Regions from separate parts of the Homo sapiens genome. Here region 1 is linked to region 2. Evidence: fine-mapped expression QTL. A gene starts in region 2. The other region holds a variant in brackets. All regions are shown on one strand. Distances are between the middles of the regions.

Region 1 (11,460 bases), 26 kb before region 2:
TATGTAAATCTGGAGTTTGGGAAAGGGGGTTCGGGCTGGAGGTACAAATTTGGGTGTCATCAAATATAGATAGTGATGAGTGCTTCAGGAATGGATGGCTCTTGGGCCTTAGAATTCAGACTGAAACTTACACCACTGGCTTCCCTGGTTGTCCATCCTTTGAACTCGGACTGAATTACACCACTGACTTTTCTGGTTCTCCAGCTTATGGACAGCAGATGGTGGGACTCTTTGGCCTCCATAATCACATGAGCCTCTTCCTATAATAAATTTCCTTACATATATGTAATATATGTGTGTGTCCTGTTGATTCTGTTTCTCTGGAGAACCCTGACTAATAATACACTATTTCCTCCCAAAACTTTTTTTTTTTTAATACCAGTTTGCATTTCCACCAACAATATTTAAGAGTCCTCTTTTCCCATCCTTCACTAATACTGAAAAATCTTTCCGGCTGGGCGTGGCTCATGCCTATAATCTCAGCACTGTGGGAGGCCGAGGCAAGTGGATCACATGAGGCCAGGCATTTGAGACCAGCCTGGCCAACATGGCGAAACCCCTCCTCTACTAAAAATACAAGAATTAATGTGGCATGGTGGCGCACACCTGTAATCCCAGCTTCTTGGGAGGCTGAGGCAGGAGAATCACTTGAACCCGGAAGGTGGAGGTTGCAGTGAGCCGAGATCATGCTGCTGCACCCCAGCCTTGGTGGCAGAGCAAGACTCTGTCTCAAAAAAAAAAAAAAAAGAAAAAAGAAAAATATTTCTGAATCCTTGTGGCTGTTGCTCTAAAGTTCAGCACAGTGGAAGCGCAGAGACTCGGAAGCAGGCTGACTTTGGCTGCAATCCTGGCTTCTGCTTGTTTCTAGTTTTGGGCCTTCTAGTGGGCAACTTACGTAACCTCTGTGAGCCTTGTTTTTCATAGCTGCAGAGTGGGATTAATGATTGTATTAATTAAAATCCTTTCAGTGGCAATTACCAGAACGACCACTGGCTAGCTTACTGGGCCTTTATTAGAAGGGCCTGGGGGTGCCTCATGGCTTCTGAGGCAGGGCAGGGCCACCTAACTTCAGCAGGGCCCGAAAGGCCAGATCCAGGCGGTCAGCAGCAGATTCAAGGACTTCCCCTGTAGAGCTGGGCTGCTCAAATTCTGTGGTTGGAGGACCAACTCTTTAAAAACTTCAAATGTTATATTCCAGTGCTTTTGGAGATGCCATAAAATTCAATGACTGGAAAAATGAAATTAAAAAACATGCACAAAACAAACCCCATTTTAAATTATTGGGTCTAACAGACATAAAGTTACTTTGTCAAATTGCTATAAGAGTTTCTAAAAGCTTACTCAATTTCTGTGCTTACCTGGTTGAAGACTGATGACAAACACTTCAGCATCTTCCCTAGCCTGAGATGACACTTGGGGCAGCACTGTTCACCCTAGAGCATTGCTAAAAGCAAGCTCACTTCCAAGTCTTTGCTCTCAGGTCAATATTCCACATTCTTGGAGGGAGAATCTGATTGCCACTGACTGTGTCAGATCTCAGAGGAGACAGAGCCATAGAGTATGTGCATCGCTTTGGGAAGACATTTTCATCTGTGGCCAGCCAAACCTGTTGAACACCCCATGTAATTTCCCACATTGTGACTATTGCCTTCTTTGTGTAGAATCTAGAAATCTACGTTTCCCAGTTTCTCTGGCTACTCACAGCATTTAGGTTTATGTTCATTCATGCTTGAGATTTTGACTCAAGAGTGGGTATGAAGCAGAGATGGGGCTTGGGGTGGTGATTTTGCTAACATGGGGAAGCCAGCGTAACTGAGATTTTGGGGTGCCAGCAAGACCAGCTCCATATCAGGCCAATTCAGTGGGGTCATAGGAGGCTCCTGGAAGCCCACCTAAAGCCTATTTCTCCAGCTGTCTAATGATTTTTGAGCTTTCTTTCTTTGCTTTTACGAGACAGGGTCTCGCTCTGTTGCCCAGGCTGGAGTGCAGTGGTGTGATCATAGTTCACTGCAGCCTCAAACTCCTGGGCTCAAGCAATCCTCCCACCTCCCTCCTGAGTAACTGAGACTACAGGTGTGCACAACCACACCTGGCTACTTTAAAGTGGAGATGGGGGTCTCACTATGTTGCCCAGGCTGGTCTCCAACTCTTGGCCTCAAGTGATCTTCTTGCCTCAGCCTCCTGGTTTCCTGACCTTTCTAATAATTTTAACTATATCCCTTTCTCTTTTGGATTCTGTTGTCTTCAGCCATGAACCTTGACCCATACAGGCCCATCCCCTTGCTGCTCAGTGCTCTCAATGACATTTCACAATGATGTGTCTTGCTGTAGGGATTCCATCCATTTTTCTGGGCACATGCAGGCTCTTTCAATCTGGAAATGTACATCTTTCAGTTCTGAGTAATTTTCTTAGATTTTTTTTTATTAGTTCCTTCCTTTTTCTTTTTCTGATCTCTTTGAAATCACTCTTCAGAAAGAGCAATTTGGATGTTGGACTTCCTATTTTGGTTTCTCTGATTTTCCATCATTTTTTCTTTTTGTTATACACTTTCAGGGAAATTTCCTCAATTTTATCTTCCACACTTCCTGTCGAGTTTTTCATTGCTGCTGTCATTTTTTTCCCCCACTGTTAAAAGCTTTAAGACATTCTCTCAGTGAGCCTTTAAAAACAGTATCTTGCTCCTATTTGGTGGAGACAGTAGCTTTTCTCCTGTCTCTGAAGATAGTAAATAAATATTATCAACATTAGTAACTGTCCTCTCGTCTCTCTCGTACACATTGTCTGTTCCTGGGTGTTTCTCATTCTGTTGGTTGGTGTCTCTGGCCCTGATGAGAGAGGTATTCCACTGGTGCTAGGTAGCTCTCGGCCATCTGCTTGCAATTAGAGTGAAGATCAGCCTCTGAGCCTGAGGAGGGGGCTTGTTAGCTTCAAGTCCAAGGCAGGGCAATGCTGGGCCACTGGGCCACTTACTGCAGGAAAGCCAGATGTCAAGGGCTTTAGAGCTTTCCTCTTGGGCTTCTCAGGGGTATAAGCCGGATGCTTTGGGTTAAGCTACACTTAGGTTTGTCCAAGCACACTTTCCAGTATGCTGGGCTTCCCCAGAGCTTCCTCATCTCCTGCCTGGAGGCAAGGACCCAGCTGCTGTTGCCCTGGGTGGCTCAGCATGCAGCAGGCAGCAAAACTCCTTGTTTCTCTTCTGCAGCTCACACCCTCGCCTGTGCCAGCTGACCTCCAGCCGCGGAGACCCTCAATTTCCCCCTTTCCAGAGAAGACAGGTTGGGTCTCAGCTGGGTGGGGAGGACAGCTCCCTGGTGTTGCAGAGGAAGGGAGAGCATCTGGGGTGCTGGTGGCCTCCCACACAGCTTTCCCCTCACCCTCCTCCATTCAGGCCCCCTTTGCCTTGACCTTAGAAGTTCCAGGGGCTGCCAGTTCCTGAGCCCCTGAGGATTCTGCAGTGCAGATCTGTATTCTTCTCAGCTTTCCCCACCTCAGCATCAGCTCTTCCTGGGTTCTGTTAAACTAGTCCCCATGCATTCATCTGCTTTCAGCTTCCAAAGTTTGGTTGCAATGCCCTCTCTTATGTTTTCCCCATCCTTTTGGTTTATATATGCATTTTCTCAATCTCTTTACTATAATGCTGGTGGGGTTTCAGGAGGGAGAAAAGTTGAATGTGTGGGCTCAACCTGACATCTTGACCTGGAAACTCCCAATCAGCTTTTTAGTATCATCCCCTTAAATAGAAGATAACAGCCAAAGGTCAGTGAATGATTGAGGAAAGCCTGTATGTGAATATCAAGAGAAAAAGCCAAGCCAAACAAAAGCAGAACAAGCTCCAGGGAAAGGAAAACAAGGAAGGGAACTAGAGGAACACTTCAAAAATGTATGGTAGCAACAACTTATTTATGGGATGGTCAGTATATACGGTTTTAGTTTGGAAATGGATAACCAGAGAACTCGAGGGACAAGTAATCTTTTAAAAAAGCAAAGACACATAAAGATGCACATAAAAGAATGTTTATCACAACATGGTTTCTAATAGTAGAAGATGTATACAACTTAAATGTCTAAGAATAAAGGAACATTTTAATAAGTTATAGTATATAATTATAGTGGAATACCGTGCAGCCATTCAAAGCGAGGTGGTAGATGCTGGTGTGGTGGTGTGTGCCCATAGCTGGACTATAGTGCCAGCTACTCTGGAGGCTGAGGTGGGAGGATTGCTTGAGCCCAGGAGTTTGAGACCAGCCTGGGCAACAGAGCCAGACCCTATTGCTTAAAAAAAAGATGTGATAGAAATGAATTTATACAAATGGGGCCAGGTGTGGTGGCTCACGTCTATAGTTTCAGCACTTTGGGAGGCTGAGGTAGGAGGATTGCTTGAGCCCAGGAGTTTGAGACCAGCTTTGGCAACATAGTGAGACCTTGTCTCTACTGAAAAAAAAAAATTAATTGGTCATGGTGGCATACACCTGTAGTTCTAGCTACTTGGGAAGCTGAGGCTGGAGAATCACTTGAGCCTGGGAGATTGAGGCTGCAGTGAGGCATGATTGCACCACTGCACTCCAGCCTGGGTGACAGAGTGAGACTCTGTCTCAAAATAATAACAATAATAATGGAAAATTACTCACAGTATATCACCAAAAATTAGAGTACAGAATCAAAATATTTACAGTAAAATCTCATTTTGGAAAAAATATGCACAGAAAAGTGTACAACTCCAATTAAAATACAAAGACTGTCAGACTGGATTTTATTTTATTTTATTTTATTTTTTGAGATGGAGTCTTGCTCTTGTCGCCCAGGCTGGAGTGCAATGGCGCGATCTCGGCTCACTGCAACCTCCACCTCCCAGGTTCAAACGATTCTCCTGCCTCAGCTTTCCTAGTAGCTGGGATTACAGCTAATTTTTTTTTGTATTTTCAGTAGAGACAGGGTTTCACCATGTTGGCCAGGCTGGTATCCTGACCTGAGGTGATCCACCTGCCTCGGCCTCCCAAAGTGATGGCATTATAGGCGTAAGCCATCGCGCCGGGCCCAGACTGTATTTTAGTACCCTTATATGCAGATAAAAATCTGGAAAACGATGTATCAAGAATATTAATAGTAGTTACCTGGAGGTAGTGGACTTATAGGTGAGCATTATTTTGTTCTTTGTACTTTTCTGTATTTTGTTAAATATTTTTCAAAATGCTTGTATTACTTTATAATTAGTATTCAGTGGTTTTTTTTGTGTTGCTTCTCATATTTATTCCATTTGATCTAATAATTTGTTTTCCAGAGAAAATAGTCATAGCAGATCAGATACATTACCTAAAATGTTTTAATTACATTGTAATTTAGAATCACAAAAGGATGGGAAACAAGCAAGCAAGCTAATAACTGAAAGCCCGAGATGTGTTAAATGGATTATTTTACATTTCTGTGTTGGAACACTCAGCCATTACAACAATACATGTGATAGAATATTTTTGATAAATAGCATATATCGGTGCAGATAGGTATGAGCTCAGTGTGCTTTGAAATAACTAAATATAGGTTAGATATATTTATGGAAAAAAACTTAAAGGAAGCATATGAAACTATTGTAAGTGGTTGTCTCAGGGTAATGGGATCCCCTACCTAAGCATGATTTCTGGGAGGGTTGAGATGGGGTCTCTCGTTCGCCATTCTATTCCCTGCTGCTTTAAGTATCTCTTGAATGAGTGCATGTATTACAGATGCTTTTGACTTTCTTCTTTTTACTTTCCTGTATATTCCAAAATTTCTACCATAAACATGTTTGTTTTTATAATCATAATACATTTTAAAACTTTAAATGAGGAAATGGGTAAATAAAAGGGAAAATATGGGAAAGTGGGAGGGTGCAAAAAATGTATCCTCCTCTGAATTGACTCCACTCCCCTGTGAGTGACAGGAGCCGGCGTTCTCCACGAGACCCTGTCTGCATCAGTCCATCTCCCCCACCCCACGCTAGGTCTGCCACCACCTCTCTGCGCTGGCAAATAATCTGCACTCAAAGGAAATAATTA[T/G]GAGGCCCATGGTGGCCTCAATACCCGCAAGACCAAAGCCTGTGACAAGCGCAATGCTCCAAGCCTGGCCCAGGGAAGCAGAATGGAACTGCCACAGCCCCCACCAACCCAGATCCACCTACTCCAGGAAACCGGCCCAGTGCCAGGGCTTTGCGCCTGGGGTGGCCTAACATTTCCGCCCAAACTTGGGCCAATTTGAGAAGGTGGAGGGTGAGGTGTTTGGGGAAGGAGTGTGTTCCTGTTGCTCGTTGCCATCACCACCTGGAGGAGGAGAATGGAGTCGATCCAATGGAAGACGAAACTTTCTTTCTTTCTTTTCTTATTTTTCTCATTTGGGGAAAACACAGGGGTCTGCACCTCCGGGGTGCAATGGTGAGCCTCGCACTGGGAAAACCACCTTTGTGATCATGGTATCTCCCCTGTCAGGTAAGCATGAGCATAAACTTTGTGTACCCCTCCCATTTTCCCTTTTCTTTACACATTTCCTTGTTTAAAGTTTTAAAATTTATTGTGATTGTAAAAATAAACATGTTTATTGTAGAAATTTTAGAATAAAATTTCTGCCCACAGGAAGCCTGTGTCCCTGAACCCTTCTCCCGGGCCAAGATTGGACTGTTTGAGGAAGATGGAAAAAGTGCTCTGTGAGCAGGATTATGAAATGACAGGGAGGACGTGAGGGGCTTTCGAAACCCTGGGAAGGAAGATGCCCACGTGAATGGAAAGTAGAAAGAAGAAAGTCAAAAGCACCTGTAATACATTCACTCATTCAGCAGATACTTAGGAGCAGTCCCCAGGTCCTGGGAATAGAAGGGTGGACGAGAGGGTCACCCAGATTCTCCTCATTATAATAATAGCAATAGCTACCCCTCTGGGTCCTTGTATGTGCCAGGTCTTTACTATGTGTTAAGCAATTTTCATTTATTATCTCCCTTGATCTGTACAAAACCCATGAGGGAGGATTCATATTAAAATCTCTGTTTTACAGATGAGAAAACTGAGGCTTGGAATGGTGAAGGAGGTCACTGAAAGTCACACTGTGAGTTAAACTGCAAAGCTGTGAATGGAAAACCCCCTAAGGCCCTGCTCTTAGCTCCTCTTGGTTCCCTGTTGCAAAGAGGCATTCCCCAGGCAGCTGTGAGGTGGAAATCTCTGTCTTCAGGCTTGCGGCTGAGAAGTTTCCCAGAGACGAGAAGCTGGAGCCTTTGGAGACCCCACTCGGCTGAGGTCCCGGGACCACGAGGGGGCAGCAGAGGTCTGCTGCGCTGGCGGGAGGCTCTGTCCCCGGCTGACTGCAGGCTCCGGGCAGCTGTCCTGAGTTAAAACCTGAACCTCGGGTGGCCGAGAATAGCAAGGGGCTGTCATTCACGTGGGCATCTTCCTTCCCAGGGTTTCGAAAGCCCCTCACGTCATCCCTGTCATTTCATAATCCTGCTCACAGAGCACTTTTTCCATCTTCCTCAAACAGGTCTGATCTTGGCCCGGGAGAAGGGTTCAGGGACACAGGATTCCTGTGAGCAGTGTGTTAGATGCTGGGCTGGTCACTGGGGCCACGGAGATTAAAAAAAAAAATCCTCTATAAAACCCAGGACTTGCCCCCAAGGGAGACTGGCACCTAAATAAGTAACCGAGGTACACGATGCAAAGTGCAATAATAGACGGACATCTGCGATTCGGAGGCAGCACGAAGTGGGAGAAAGAGGGGCGGAATTAGAAGCCAGGGATTTGGCTTAAAGGTGGCCCGAGGTGTGCAGCTGCCTGCAAATGCCATCCTTCATGTGAGCTGAGGCACAGGAAGAGGCTGAGAAGTCCGGTCTAGAGGGATGTTGGGTAAATGGTCCCAGGTTGAAAAATATTAGATGCTGAAGGAATGTCAGATGGTCTCGAAATTGTGAGGTTTGCCTCTGAGTCCCAGGCAGGATGTGGGCTGGGATAGCTGAGGCAGGCCGAACCTAGGCTCAGGAAGATGGTGAGAGATTGTAAAAATAAACAGGTTTATTGTAGAAATTTTAGGGGTGGGGTTAGGAGGTCATTAGGAGGTCCAGGGTCAGGGTCAGTGGGCTTCAGGACCTGGCAAAGCCAGAGGGCATGAGAGCCAGCCTTGCCTACCCACTCCGGGCTGGGCCCACAGCTGCCACGACCCTTTGTCCCCAAGGGTGACAGGAGAGCTTGCACCAGCCCAGATGCTTCCTTCTCCAAAGACATGGACGGAGGGTCTCAGGCTTATACCAGCCAGGATTATTCCAGTGGGATTCCAGCTCTCCTCCTAGCCATGTCCTTCCCGCAAAAGTTTGAAGCGGGTCTGGCTGGGTGAGGTAACTCCTTGACAAACTGGACTCATTTTTGGCTGATGACCTGTGTGGTCCCTGAAGCTCTGTCCTCACCCAAGATTGGCCCAGAGGGGAGTGGAGGTGGAAGGGGAAGGCCAGGCATGGCTGCGGCACTCCATTTGCCCCCAGCAGCCTGGCGGTCTTCACTTGTGCTCACCCCACAGGCATTGTGGACACAGGTGTGTCACCAAAGGGCCATGAGGCTCCTGTGTCACGTGGGACACCCCTGCCTTGCCAATCTTTAATTTATTATTATTATTATTTTTCCGAGAAGGAATTTTGCTCTTGTCGCCCAGGCTGGAGTGCAGTGGCGTAATCTCGGCACTGCAACCTCCGCCTCCCAGGTTCAAGTGATTCTCCTGTCTCAGCCTCCTGAGTAGCGGGATTACAGGTGCCCACCACCACGCCTGGCTAATTTTTGTATTTTTAGTAGAGACGGGTTTCACCATGTTGGCCAGGCTGGTCTCGAACTCCTGACCTCAGGTGATCCATCTGCCTCGGCCTCCCAAAGTGCTGGGATTACAGGAGTGAGCCACTGCACCCGGCCATTAATTTTTTTCCCAGGCAGTCTCCCTCTGGGCAGGTGAGTCCCAGGTGGCAGTGTCCGGCAGCCATCCTCGGACTTCTTCCCCGCAGCATGGCCAAGGGCAAGGGAGAGGGAAGGGACGCAGGCCAGGGCATGACATACAGTGGCCCAACGTAGGAAAAACATTTTTTTTTGACCTCTCATTCATTTTCTTAAAAGTTCACATGCCTTTCACCTTCTTTTTAGTGCCTCCTGGCAAGTTTTATCATTAAAAACAATCTTTTTTAATGACTTGCATTTCCATTTAAAGCGATTTGTGTGACTGGTTTATTTGCTTAGTCTTAAGGTGATGTCACTGCAACAGGCACCATGGATTTAAGGATATATAAATCCTTACGTATCCTTTTTTCTTTTTTTGAGAAGCAAAAAACATGATCTCATTAGATGTTAAAATGTTAAAATTAGATATTAAATGTTAAAATATGGGGAAAATGCAGATCTTAGAACGAGGGAAATTCTTGTTGGTAATTTTCATCCTCCCAAAAAACTTCAGAATAAAATTGGTTCTCCCTGAAGATGTGTGACATTTGTACTTGGCTTCATGTCCTTATCCTGCAGTGTTGGGGGGCACAGGGTGAAGTCACGCTTGTTGTGAGCTGGCCCTGTATTTTCCCAGAGAGAATTCTTTCTGGCTACCCAGAATGTTCAAGGGCTGGAGTTCCAGTTAATTGAACCATTCTGGGTCAACAGCCGCTCTTGACAGATTTGAATTTTCAGCATTTGGAGTTAGAAATCTTTCTTAAGAATGTAATCTCATCAACAAGCATTCAGTGAGTACCGAATATGGACCTGTTTCTCTGCTTTTATGTTGTTGTCTCCAGAACATTCAGGGATCCTCATTCAAGCAGTTGACAATTTCATGGAGTTCCTCAAGGCCTTTGTAACTGACACCAGTTTTCTAGAACTGGAAATGAGAGAAAGGAGAGATGGGGCTGCATGAGACGATTCTGTGGGCGTGCTGTACTTTTTTGCCAAGCACTTTGTCACCTGTCATCTCATTTGTTTCTTACAACAATGCTGTGAATATTATTACCAGGCTCTGACGGGTGAAGCAGCTTGCACCTTGCCTGGCACCATGTGTCTGGGTGGGTGCAGAAGGGAATTTCCTCCAGGCTCCCAGGCCTCCCTCTTCCTCATTAGGCTTCTTGGGTGGGGGAAACATCTGGGCAGCTTTGGTTTCATTGGTTTGTTCTAAGAAAACTCAATTGCTTTTTTTTTTTTTTTGAGACAGAGTCTCGCTCTGTCACCCAGGCTGGAGTGCAGTGGCGCGATCTCGGCTCACTGCAAGCTCCGCCTCCTGGGTTCACGCCATTCTCCTGCCTCAGCCTCCCGAGTAGCTGGGACTACAGGCGCCCACCACCACGCCCAGCTAATTTTTTTGTATTTTTAGTAGAGACGGGGTTTCACCGTGTTAGCCAGGATGGTCTCATCTCCTGACCTCGTGATCCGCCTGCCTCGGCCTCCCAAAGTGCTGGGATTACAGGCTTGAGCCACTGCGCCCGGCCTCGATTGCTTTTTTTTTTTTGCAACTTTTCCCCCACACTGAAGACCAACCCCCATATAACTCCAAGACACAGAAGAGAGAGCGGGAAAGAGACCTCTGTGGCTTGGGGTTGCATGTGGGCCTATGATAAAGGCCTATGTAAGTATATTCAACCAATAACAATCTGTTATTATTTGGCCCTGGCCAAATAGTTATAACTAATATTTGTTTGAGCCCCAGCTGTGTGCTCAGCACTGGGCAAAGAAGTGACTATGTGTCTACAGAGGACCCAGTCAGGCCTGCTCAGCCTGAGCTCTGCCATGCCTCCTTGGCCTGCCCTGAGGTCCTCCTGGTCAGGGAGCTGGATGTGTGGGCTGTGAGGCCATCTGCTAGCACAGTGGTGTTAGCTCAGTGGGGTGGCAGGGCTGCTGGAACCCAAGGATGGCACTGATGAATCTGTTTGGGGAGAGGGTGGGGCCCCTGGAGAGGACATTTCACAGAGGAGGTGACATTTTAGTGGTCCTCTGAAGAGTGAAAGGAATTCTCCACGTAGACAGAGGGTGTTCCTGGCAGAGCAAAACTCAAAGAACATAGAGGATGGGATGGGTTATGAAAGTCCACATGTGTGCGTGTGTGCATGAGAGAGAGAGAGAGAGAGAGAGAGAGAGAGACTCCTATCTGCATTCATCTCTCTCTCCATGGTCTCTGGCTTCCCCCTCAACACCCTTCCCCAGCACTCCTGGCCTAGCCCTGGGCTTGGCAGGCCTCTCCCTGCTCCCTCTGGGCTCAGAGTTTCTGCCCTTCCACCCCACAAGTGCTTCTCTGTTCCCTCAGCCTCTACTGGCTTTCAGTTTGTCCTTTGAAAAAAAGCCGCCTTTGAATTTGTTCTTCCAAAGCCTGCCCTATGCTCGGCCTCCAGAAGGATGGACACTTGATCCCATCCATGGCTGGCCACAGGGCGTGGCCTTCGGAGCAGCTGCAAGGATAGTGTTGACTCCAGATGGAAAGTGTCTGGAGAATTCTGACCTGACATC
Region 2 (11,460 bases):
ATTGATCAGGTTGGGGAACCCAATGCCAGAGAAAAGATTGTGGATTCAAGACAACCACAAGTTCTTGGCAGTCAGGGCAGCTGTGCCTTTGACATGACCAACTCTGTCTCTGGATCCACTGTTTTTTTCTGGTCAAAGCAGCTGACTAAATAGCTGAGCAGGTCTTGGTCCAAACAGAGGAGTGGACCTTCATTCACTCAGTAAGTACTTATTGAGTGTCTACTGTGTACTAGGGATTGTTCTAGCGGCTGGGATATAGCAGTAAACAAGGCAGGCAAAAATCCCTGACCTCATGGAACTGACCTTCTAGTGTATGGGAGACAGAAACCAAGCAACCAGTGATATCTATAGTATGGCAGATGATGGTAAATGCCATTGAAAATAAAGCAAGGAAGAGGTAGATAATACTGAAGGGGAAGGGTACAAACTTCATAGAGTGTGATTAGGGACAGCCTCACTGAGAAGGGGACATAGAAACACCAGAAAGGGGTGAGGAAGTGAACCCTGAGGCTACCCGAGCTAAGGGCATTTCAGGCACAGTAAACAGCCAATGCAAAGGCCCTGAGGTGGGAGCCTGCTGGGTAGGTTCAAGGAATGGCAGGGAGCCCTGTGTGGTGAGAGCAGAGTATATGGGCTAGGGCGGGGGATGAGGTTAGAGAGGAAATGGGGGACCAGATGTCAACTTTTGCTCCTACTCGAATGTTTCAGTTCTCTATTTCTGTATAAGAAACCACCCCAAAATGTAGTGGCTTAACACAACCATTTAATATTCTTTCTCATGTTTCTGTTAGTTGACTGGGTTCAGCCGGGTGGTTCTTTAGTGGGTTCCCCCATGGGGCTGCAGCCAGCTAGAGGCTGGGGCTGGAGGCACCCATAAGGTTCTGCTGAGAGCCTTCTTCACTCATATGTCTGGCACTGTGTTGCTTTCTATGTGGCCTCTCTCTTCAGCAGAACCCACCGGGGTTTCTCACTTAGCAACTAAAGGCTTCCAACTGGCCGGAAGCCTAAACAGCCAGTCTCCATAAAGCACAGCAGCACTTCTGCAGGGCTCCATTAGCCAGAGCAGTCACAGGCCAGCCCAGGTTCCCAGCAATGGAGGGACAGACTCCACCTCTCCATGCATGCAGGGAGGGAAGGAATTCATAGCAGCCACGAACATCCGAGCAAAAGAATTCAAGCGGAGGTTTTAAGCAGAGAAATGACATATGTCCTGCTTTAACAGGACACCTGGCCAATGGTGTGGAGATATGTCATGCCAGCCTCCTCCTGTTTTTTGTTGACAACCCTCGTGACCTTTTTCCCTCCCCACTCTCCCTTTCCACTCTGACCAAGAGTCAGGACTAAACCCTACCCCCTGGGCACTGCCCTCTGCACATGTGTTAAGAAGGTACACAGAGCATGTGCTGAGATGGTGCACACAGCGGGTCTCAGGGAGAGAGTGCCCTTATCTGGCATCTGCCCAGCCCCAAAGACTCGGTTTTCCATAATTGGGATGGCCACTTGAATAGAGGAAGGTAGAAGGAAGATTGCAGGAGAGTCTGAAAGAGCTTCCTGCCTGGATGCCTCATCACTGTCCTCTGGATCCAATGTCCTGCTGGTTAATGGTGGCAGTGCTAGCACTGTGAATGGGAGGCGGGGAGGAACTCTGGATTCTTCTTATTCCCCTGGTTGGCCCTTTCTGGAGCTGCTGTGAGTACCACCCCAGGGGGGCACCATTCATGCTGTGTCTGTTTCCACTAGGAGAGTTTCCTCATGGCAGTCTAGTTTCCACTCTTCCTCCCTTTCTCTAACGGGTGCCACACCTACTTTGGAACAATCTGAACAGCCATAAATAGGGACTCCAGATTCAGGAATGCAGAGCTTCATGTAGCAAGCATCCAAGGTTCCATCCTATCCGGCCAAGAAGCAGCTAATCACTGGCCTGCAGGGCTGTCCTGTCTGCACTCGGGTGGTGTGTGCACCAAGGAACTGCTGGGCAGATTCCACTTGCAAGGAGGGAGGGCTCCAGTGCCTGGATACCAAGATCTGGGCTCTATATGCCCTTGCCATCTGACCCTGACTAGAAGGAGCTAGAAGTGCACTGTGCTGGACCAAGGGAGGCCAGTGGCTCCAGCTGAGAGGTTGACAGCAAGAAGCCCACCAGGCTGGCAGCACAGCAGGAAGAGCTGGCTTACACAGGCCAGCCCTATAGGTGGCCCAGTTATCACCTCCCAGATGCTAGTCACTGAGCTCTCAGGAGGCAGCGGACACAGTGGTTCAGAGCTTGGGTTTTGGGGTCAGTTGGCCTGGGTTCAAATCCCATGACTGTTCTTTTTTTTTTTTTTTTTTTGAGACGGAGTCTCGCTCTGTTGCCCAAGCTGGGGTGCAGTGGCGTGATCTCGGCTCACTGCAAGCTCCGCCTCCTGGGTTCACGCCATTCTCCTGCCTCAGCCTCCCGAGTAGCTGGGACTACAGGCGCCCGCCACCATGCCCGGCTAATTTTTTTGTATTTTTAGCAGAGACGGGGTTTCATTGTGTTAGCCAGGATGGTCTCGATCTCCTGACCTTGTGAACCACCAGCCTCGGCCTCCCAAAGTGTTGGGATTACAGGCGTGAGCCACCGCACCCAGTGACTGTTCTTTCTGTTGGCAAGATTATTTTTTTCCCCACTAAGAGCCTTAGTCTTCTTATCTGTAGAGTGGGTTTACTTCCCTGGGTGATGATAAGGATTAGTGAGATAGAGTTTGTATGCACTCCTTGCATGGCAGTATTAAAGAATTAACGATTGCCTGACTTTCTAATATCTGTTCCCAGTGGCCTGACCCCTAAGCTCTTGCTTTGCCTTCCCTTTTTATCTTTATTCCTTTTCCCTAGACCAGCCATCCAAAGGGGTATGGAATCTTCCAGTGACAACATCCCTCGATCCCAGGGTCACCTCAAATGGTTAATTCAGTGGGCGATGTTTTTAATGAAGGGCATAGGGTGTCGTCTGCATTGTACCATCCAAAGGTGTGAGTAGGGCCAAATGGAGCCTTGGGAGACTTTTTATCCTGGAAAGTCTATGAATTCATGAAATCCACATTACTGTCATTACAGGGCCACCACAATGGGCAAAAGTTCCTCATGGGGAGACCGCAGTGTTGTGTGCAGTCCCAATAGTGTGATACCACCAGGGGGTGCTGCCCAGCTGGTCTCTGCCCCAATTCTCAGCAAGGCTGAGGAAGGCAGAAGTGAGAGCCCTTGGAAGACAGGTTTGACCCCTAGGCTGGTGGGGCGTGGGCAGCCAGCCTGGACCTGGAAGGTCTGCAACCTGGCAGGCTGACAATGGCAATAGCAGGGACTCCACATCAATCGGCCTCTTTACAATTTGTCGCCTGTTCCCACACACACCATTCCATCTCAAGACTCAAGAGATGATGCCCAGATAGTGAACAGAGGCTCAGAGAAGTCAGGGAGCTGCTCAAGGTCACACACCTGGTACGTGACAAGGTGAAGATCCCTCTGGGCTTGCCTGTTGCCAACTCTGGGGCCCTGGCATTTGGCCAGCGGGAGAGGCAGCATGTTGAGGAGAAAGAGCCTGTCTGGAAGCCTGTAGCCCGGCTTGGAGCCCTGCTCTACCTCCACCCTGCATGGCTGATCATTCCTATCCAATCCCTTCGCCTCCTCCTGCCCCATGGGATCTCGGTGACCTTCTCCTCTATTTGGGGGGAAGTTGGCACGGGGCTTAGGATCAGTATGAGTGGATCCTTTGGTATTCAGCCAAGATGTGATTTTCCCAGACACAGCTTGGCCTCTTTAAGGACAAAATTCAGTCCTGCTAGAGACTTCTCACACAACCTCACCAGCCACGGGCACCCCAGTCTTCAGCTACACCCAAGTCTGGGATGCAAGGGGGCCTTAGCAGCTGGCTGACCCAGGATGCCCAAGGTCACCATTCCCTAGACTCTAGGCATCATGCCACATGCTGCACATGCTGCGTCTTTGAGTCCTTGCAGCCGTGTGAGGCACGGTATCATTACTCCCGTTTTACAGAGGAAGCTACTGAAGCTCAGAGAGTACCTGAGCAGCCCTGGAGAAGGAGTGTCACTTTTCCTCCATCTCTGCCACTGACTGGCTGGATGCACAGGAGGACTGGGTCTCCAGACAGGAGTGTAAAGGGCACGAGGGTTGCTTGTCCTTATCAGAGGTTTCCTGAGCACCAGCCTTTAGAGACAGGGAGGAAGGCAAGAGTGCGCCTTTGAGGAACGCACAAGCCCAGGAGTTCCAACAGGGCTGCAGTGGAGGCTAAGTTGCAGCAGGACTTTTGAGCAAGCATGCACACAGGCCAGCAAGAGCAATTGGAGGCTATGGTGAGCAGGGAAGGTTCGCGGGAGGAGGGGGACCGGAGCTGTTCATCGAAGGGTGAGGAAGAGTGTGCGTTGCAAAGGGGAGCCGTGGGAGACCTGGGAGCAAAGGCCAGAACTTTAGGGTTCGAGGCTGAGCAGGGAAACGACAGGAGAATGAGGGCTCCTCTTTGGCAGCACACACCTGGTCTCCAGGACAGAGATAAGGTGCAGGAATATGCAGGTGTCCAGGGAAGACGATGTCTCCGGGAGCACATGCTTTATGATGCTGGCACCCACCTTGGTGGCAAAATGAGATTTTGCATTTACTATATTCAGAAAACTGCATGCCTCAGTGTGTGTGTGTGTGTGTGTCTATGTTTGAAGTCTTATGTCAAAGTCCTTTGACATCCATCTCTTTGTCCTTTCCCAGCTACCCTGAGAAGGTTGGCTGGAAATATCCTCAAAGACAGAAAAGAGTGACGGTGGGAGGAAACGTCTTGCTCGTGGTCATGGGGTTCCGTCGTTGACAAACCAAGGCTCAACCGGGGCTGCTGGCTGGAGCTCCATGCTCCTGCCCCCAAAGCTATGCCCAGATCCCCATCCCACCTCCCAGCACCCTGCGTGCCATCTGCCTCCTCCACCCCTAGGCATTCTCCCATGGAGGAGAGAAGCACTCCACTCTGTGTGAGCCCTTGTGTTTTCATCAGAGTTCAAGGCCAGGGTCAAGGGTCCATCTTCTCCCAAACCACCTTGCTGGCTTTTAGTGTCCACCTTCCTTAAGGAGTAACAGTCACAGAGAAGGGACCAGCAAGGAGTGAAGCCCTGTTCTGAGCCTCGGAAGGGAGCGGCTGGGAAGCAGTCCTCTGGCAAGGACATCTGAGGGCCTACTAGTTTGACCCCTTCTTTCCAGAATCTCCAGTGGAATGGCACTGATGACTGAGGGTCTGGGGGGTCTACCTCTGCCCCTTGCCAATAACCGTGGGCACCTGCAAAGCTCTCACCTGGTGCCAGGCACTGCTCTGAGTGCCTTGCGCATACACGCTTTTCACACCGCCTGGGGAGGAAGGTACGATTATGACCCTCGTTTTACAGGTGAGGAAAGGGAGGCACAGAGAGGTTAAGTGACTTTCCCAAGGTCATTCAGTGAGTGGCAGAGCTGGGGTTTGAGCCCAGGAAATCTGCCTCAAGTAGCTGTTTTGCCTCAATAAATAATACTAACAACAACCACAGCTACCATTTGACGACCCGTTCCTATGTGCCTAGTGCTTTAATTCCTCAGAGCAATGCTGTGACTTAGGCGTTGTTCTCCGAATTTCTCATTTCACAGATGAGTAAATCCCGGTTTAGCAGGGCGCCTGGAGTGAGGTGACTGCGGAGGCTCGCAGACGTTAGGTCTGCCTAAATCCGAAGCTTCCACCCTCCTCTGCCTCTGTGACTTGCTGCGTGACTTTGGAGCTTTCGGAAACTCAGTTTCCCTGTCTTAAGCCCTCTGCTCCTCTTGCTTTCCCGCTCCAGCAAGTGAGAGTGGACTGGGTTGCCGTGCCGGGCGGGTGTGGGTCGCCGGGCAACTCCGGAGTCTCCCCTTCCCCATCGGCCCCCAGCAGAAGTCCCAGCTCCCGGCGTTTTCTGTCTCGTGGCGAGTTGGGGCGGAGGGAGCGGCGGGAAGGTGCCGGGTGGGCAAGGTCGGAGCTGCGTCACCGAGAGGCCGGCAAGGCCAGGGAGAAAAGGCCCCGCTGTGATTTGGGGAAGGGCCGGGGGCCCATAAGTCACGTGCTCGGGGCGGTTGTGCAGGAGCGGACTGTCCTCTGGGAACATAGAAGCGCCCCCGACTAGAGTAGGGGCGGGGAGGGAGCGCCGGAGGAGGCAGGTTCTGGGCCAAGGGGATGGGGGTGGGGGGGAGGTAGGGAGCCCGCGGACAAAGGAGGCGGCCGGCGGCCCAGCTGTTTTGAAAAATGCTTCCTGTTTCTTTAAAGGCGCTCGCGGCTCGGGCGGCCCGGGCTGGGGAGGCGGTGGCGGCGGGAGCTGCCTCCTCTCCGGGCGGCGGCGCTGACTGATCTCGCGAACTGGGCTTCTGTGTAAACTGAGGCTAAACAAACACAGATGGAGCGCAGCGGGCGTTCTCCAGAAATGCTGGCAAGGAGGCAGCGACTTCAGATGACACTCTGAGCGCTCCGGGAACGGACAGCCCGGCGGCTTCCCGAAGCCGGCGGCGCAGCTGCCCGGGGCGAGGGGGAGAAAGGGAGAGAGGGAGGGGGAGGGCGGGCGAAGCGGGAGAGCCAGAGACTCCTCGGCGCTGAGCGCGGCGGCGGCCCGGGCAGCCCCACGCCCCTGCCTCGCGCGCCGCCCGCGCCATGAAGCACATCCCGGTCCTCGAGGACGGGCCGTGGAAGACCGTGTGCGTGAAGGAGCTGAACGGCCTTAAGAAGCTCAAGCGGAAAGGCAAGGAGCCGGCGCGGCGCGCGAACGGCTATAAAACTTTCCGACTGGACTTGGAAGCGCCCGAGCCCCGCGCCGTAGCCACCAACGGGCTGCGGGACAGGACCCATCGGCTGCAGCCGGTCCCGGTACCGGTGCCGGTGCCAGTCCCAGTGGCGCCGGCCGTTCCCCCAAGAGGGGGCACGGACACAGCCGGGGAGCGCGGGGGCTCTCGGGCGCCCGAGGTCTCCGACGCGCGGAAACGCTGCTTCGCCCTAGGCGCAGTGGGGCCAGGACTCCCCACGCCGCCGCCGCCGCCGCCTCCTGCGCCCCAGAGCCAGGCACCTGGGGGCCCAGAGGCACAGCCTTTCCGGGAGCCGGGTCTGCGTCCTCGCATCTTGCTGTGCGCACCGCCCGCGCGCCCCGCGCCGTCAGCACCCCCAGCACCGCCAGCGCCCCCGGAGTCCACTGTGCGCCCTGCGCCCCCGACGCGCCCCGGGGAAAGTTCCTACTCGTCAATTTCACACGTAATTTACAATAACCACCAGGATTCCTCCGCGTCGCCTAGGAAACGACCGGGCGAAGCGACTGCCGCCTCCTCCGAGATCAAAGCCCTGCAGCAGACCCGGAGGCTCCTGGCGAACGCCAGGGAGCGGACGCGGGTGCACACCATCAGCGCAGCCTTCGAGGCGCTCAGGAAGCAGGTACCCGCTCGCCGCCGCACGCCCTCACTGCGCCGGGGGACGACTGCGGGAATGGGTGGGCGAGTGGCCGGGGCGGGATAGAGGTGTGTTTAAGGGGCAAGCTGCCCCGCCCGGTCCGACCCTGGTGCCCAGACAGGTGTGGGCAGTCCTAGGGTATGGATCATAGTTTTCAAAGTGGCTATAAGAGTTGGTTATCTCTGGCCCGAGCACCCCCCGCCCTCAACCCCCGCCTCGGGGGTAACGCTGTCTGCGCTTCTGACTTCAGCCTCCATAGTTCACTTTTATGGCAGCGAGTATTTGCCTGCCGGAGTCCCCTGGGCGCGGTGCGGAGTGGAGAGGGGAAATGTGGGAATCTGTCAGCGGAGGAAGGGGGGAGCCTTCTCCAGTTGGTGGTGGCAAGGTCCGGAACGCTGCGGTGGGACAGTCCGGGGGAGTTGTCAGCCCCTCTTCAGGCCCCAGCGGTGATGCCCCGAACACTCAGGTTGCTTCCGGGCTATGCACTCCTTGCCCTGGCATCCTCAAGAACCCGCGCTACAAGCCTGTGCCCTCTCCCCAGGGGTGGGCTCAGGAATCGGCTGGTGGGAGTCTTTCTAGCAGATCCCTTCCTTTCACCCGTGGTGAAGCAGGCAGCTCTGCCGAGGGGACTGCCTAGGTTGGGGATTCCCTCTGGAGCATCTTCAGAGCCTAGTTCTGGGGTGGGTCCGGGACTTTTTAGTTTGGGGCTGGTGCGGGCTGCCCTCACCAGACAGTGCCCCTGCGCAGGTAGCGGAAGAATACTTAACCCAAGAATTACCCGTGGTGGGGCGGGACAATCGCTTGGGCTTCTAGGCTTCTTATTTTCTTAGCGAGAAGGAGCTCTAGGAAGGAGGTGGTGAGTTCTCTCCCACCCCCACACAGGGCGTGGGGAAGGGTTAGGGTAGATGTGGCTGGTTTGAAGGGTGTTTTTTTTTTCTTTTTATTTGCATACTCTGCAGCTGACTTGCTGTGTGACTCCAGGAATGTTGCTCAACTTCTCTGGGCTTTATCCAGCAACAAAACATTTCAGAAACCATGATCTTCTTTTTGGATCACTCTCCTCTTCCTGCTGGGGGTTGGGGTGGGGTGGGGCAGTAGTGCCTGTGTCCATCCATGGAAAGGAAATTGAATCCTTGGAGGAAAGAGGCCCTATGACTTTTGAGCCAAAGTGTCTTGCTTGGGCTTGGGGAAAGTGGTCAGTGAGGTGGGGTGGGGGTGGGGGTGGGGGACGGGTGGCTGTCACAGACCAGGCTGGGCCTCTGCCCTCATCCACACCAGCTGGAACCCTGGGCGGTGGGTCCAGTGGAGCAGTCAGTCCCACCCTGAGCCAGCAGCTCTGTGTCTGCATCGCTGGGTAGAGGTGGCGGTGCGTGGGGGATCCTGCAACCCACTCCCCAGGACAGAAGGATAACAGAAGGGCAGAGAGATGCCTGTCCACCTGCCCACCTTGCCACTAGGGAAGCCCCTCCTAGACTGGGGAGGCACGTGCCCAGAGCCTCATAGCTGTTGAGTAGCAGGTCAGGGCTGGCACCTAGGGGCTTTGACTGCAGGTTCTGGGCCCTTGTGCTCCTCTATTGCCTCTGTATGCTGAGAGAATACTCATCTGAGTGCTTTGTTACATCTCATGTGCCCACTGACTTTTACTTCATTCAACAATCAATTCCATCTCATTTGATCTAAACATAATCCCTGTCGAAATTGGATTAACTCATTTTATAGTATGGAACACTGAGGCCCAGAGATGGAAGGAGACTTGTCCAAGGTCACCTAGTGGGTTAGGGAAGATAACAGCAGTTTCTGGAATGCCCTCCTGGCCAAATGCTTCCCACAGTGCCATCTGTATCAGCGTCATGTGCCACCCCCCCAGCCCCCAGCCTGTGATGTTTGTTAACAATCAAGGCAGGGTGCACACTTGGCAGACCCTTTGAGATGAGATTGTTCATCCTGGTCTCCTTTTACTTCCCCCCTTACCGTGGGAAGTTCTCTATAAAAAGGGCAAGTTCAGTGTATCTAAGTAGAAGGCACACCCATGCCCTCTCAGGGAGAGCGTGTGTATGCAATGCAAACACACAGGCAGGTACACACACACATGCTCCTTACACGTGCTCAAGAGCACACACAAATGCATGGTCACAGAAGCACCTGTTCCTGTTTGTTTCCTCCTTGCCCTAGCCATTCTGCCCCTTCCCCAGAAAGGCTGCCAGGCCATAGTGGGCACCTGCCTGTTAGCTGGGAAGGAAAGAAATACAGCCAGGACGTTTCTGGTCATAGAACCAGGGGCCAAGGCCACACCCACCATGTCCTCCTCACCACCATGGCACCCATTCGATAGAGGAAGTCCTGTGTTCTGGAGGAGCCCCTTCCTCCTCTGGGCCTCAGTCTTCTCTGTAAAATGTACTCCGCACCCCCTCCCCGAATCCAGACGAGCTGCAGCTCTGGAGCTAGGCTCGGGCCTGACTGAAATGGGTCCTTGGAAATGGACAAAAGGCAGATCAGCTCCGCCTGAAATGGGGCCTTGGCCAGTGTGGCACTGAGATGGGTTCTGGGATTGTGGCTCTGGCCTGGGGCTTCATTCTCCTGAGCAGCTTCCTGGTACCATGAAAGAAGCACTGATCTGGGAAACTGGAGGCCAGGCATTGAGTTGTTCCTCCCCTGCATGCCTTCTGTGTGGCTGTGGACAAGTCACTGACCCTTTCTGGGCCTCAGTTGCTGAAGTTGTAAAATGGTAATATTGCTGACCTCATCCAGTGTTGAGAAGAGAAAGTGAGGAAAGGTAGGAGGCCTATAAGAGCAGTGAACATTTCTTTCATTTCATTTTTTTTTTTTTTTTTGAGACAGAGTCTCTTTCTGTTGACCAGGCTGGAGTACAGTGGTGTGATCTCAGCTCACTGCAAACTCCACCTCCCAGGTTCAAGTGATTCTTCTGCCTCAGCCTCCCGAGTAGCTGGGATTACAGGTGCGCACCACCACACCTGGGTAATTTTTTGTATTTTAGTAGGGATGGGGGTTTCACCATGTTGCCCAGGCTGGCCTCGAACTCCTGGGCTGAGGTGATCCACCCACCTCTGTCTCCCAAAGTGCTAGGATTACGGGCATGAGCCACTGTGCACAGCCAGAGCACTGAACATTTCTTAAGCATCTCCAAGGTCCTCAGGGCTGGGCAAGGCTCTCGACAGATGAAGCAATAAGAATTCTTTAATTGTTTTAATAACTGTCACAGAAATTAGCATTCATCACATGCTTACTTTGTGCCAGGCATGGTGCTAAGCTTGTTATGTGTATTAGTTCATTTAATGAAATAGATATTATTGCACCCCCTGCCCTGTTTCACAGATGGTGACACTGAGTTTCAGAGAGCTTATGTAAGTTGTCCCGGTCTTTTGCCACTGCACGTGGCCTTGTGGGTTTTGTGCTACATGCTACCTTGGCACGCAGTTTGCCAGCCTCCAGGGTGGCGGTGCCTCGTGGTCATGTACAGTGGCAGCCTGCGTAGCTGTGTGCCGCTGTTGCTGCGGAGCTTGGGTTGGGCTCCCAGGGCCCAGACTCCTAACAGCTCTGCTCCTCAGCCTGTCTAATGTCCTGGAGCCATCTACCCTCAGCATGAGGAAGCCAGACAGGCTCCCATTGTGTCATAATCCACTGTCCTCTCAACCAGGAAGGGAGCAGGGAGGGTGGCTGCAGGGCCGCAGGTGGGGAGGTGCAGGTGGGAGAGAGGCCCTCTGGTCTGGTCTGGTCTGGGCTGGGTGGTGCAGGGCAGATGGTCAGGCCCCAGCACATGCCACCAGCGCAGCTGCACCAGAGCCCTCCCTGCCGCCTCATGTGAAGGCCATGTGTGCACAGCTGGCCTGGCCCCGGGAGTGGGGCTGCTCCCTGCCAGGTGGGAGGGGTCAAAGGGAAAGGCTGGCCTTGAGGGGTGGTGAGGGAAGGGGCCAGAGTGGCAGGACCTTCTGTCTCACAAGCTGTGCCCACCCTTGGGGCATGTGGTGTGCGTGTGGATTTCCTCTCTCCCTTCAGGGTCCCTC

What was found. PIP is the estimated chance that this variant, and not a neighbour inherited with it, causes the effect.
Region 1: its variant is fine-mapped to the expression of ATOH8 in whole blood (TOPMed, PIP above 0.99). The same link has a PIP of 0.9 or more in monocytes.

The regions. Positions count from the first base shown.
Region 1 is chr2:85,721,874-85,733,333 of GRCh38, forward strand. It overlaps the pseudogene RNU1-38P. Among named protein-coding and RNA genes, the nearest start is that of ATOH8, 26 kb to the right of the region's middle. The variant T/G (reference allele first, on the strand shown) is at 6,031.
Region 2 is chr2:85,747,535-85,758,994 of GRCh38, forward strand. It overlaps ATOH8 (atonal bHLH transcription factor 8), which reads left to right and starts at 6,457. Exons shown (of 3, transcript NM_032827.7): 1 at 6,457-7,423. The coding sequence starts at 6,656. RefSeq lists a silencer at 3,126-3,346.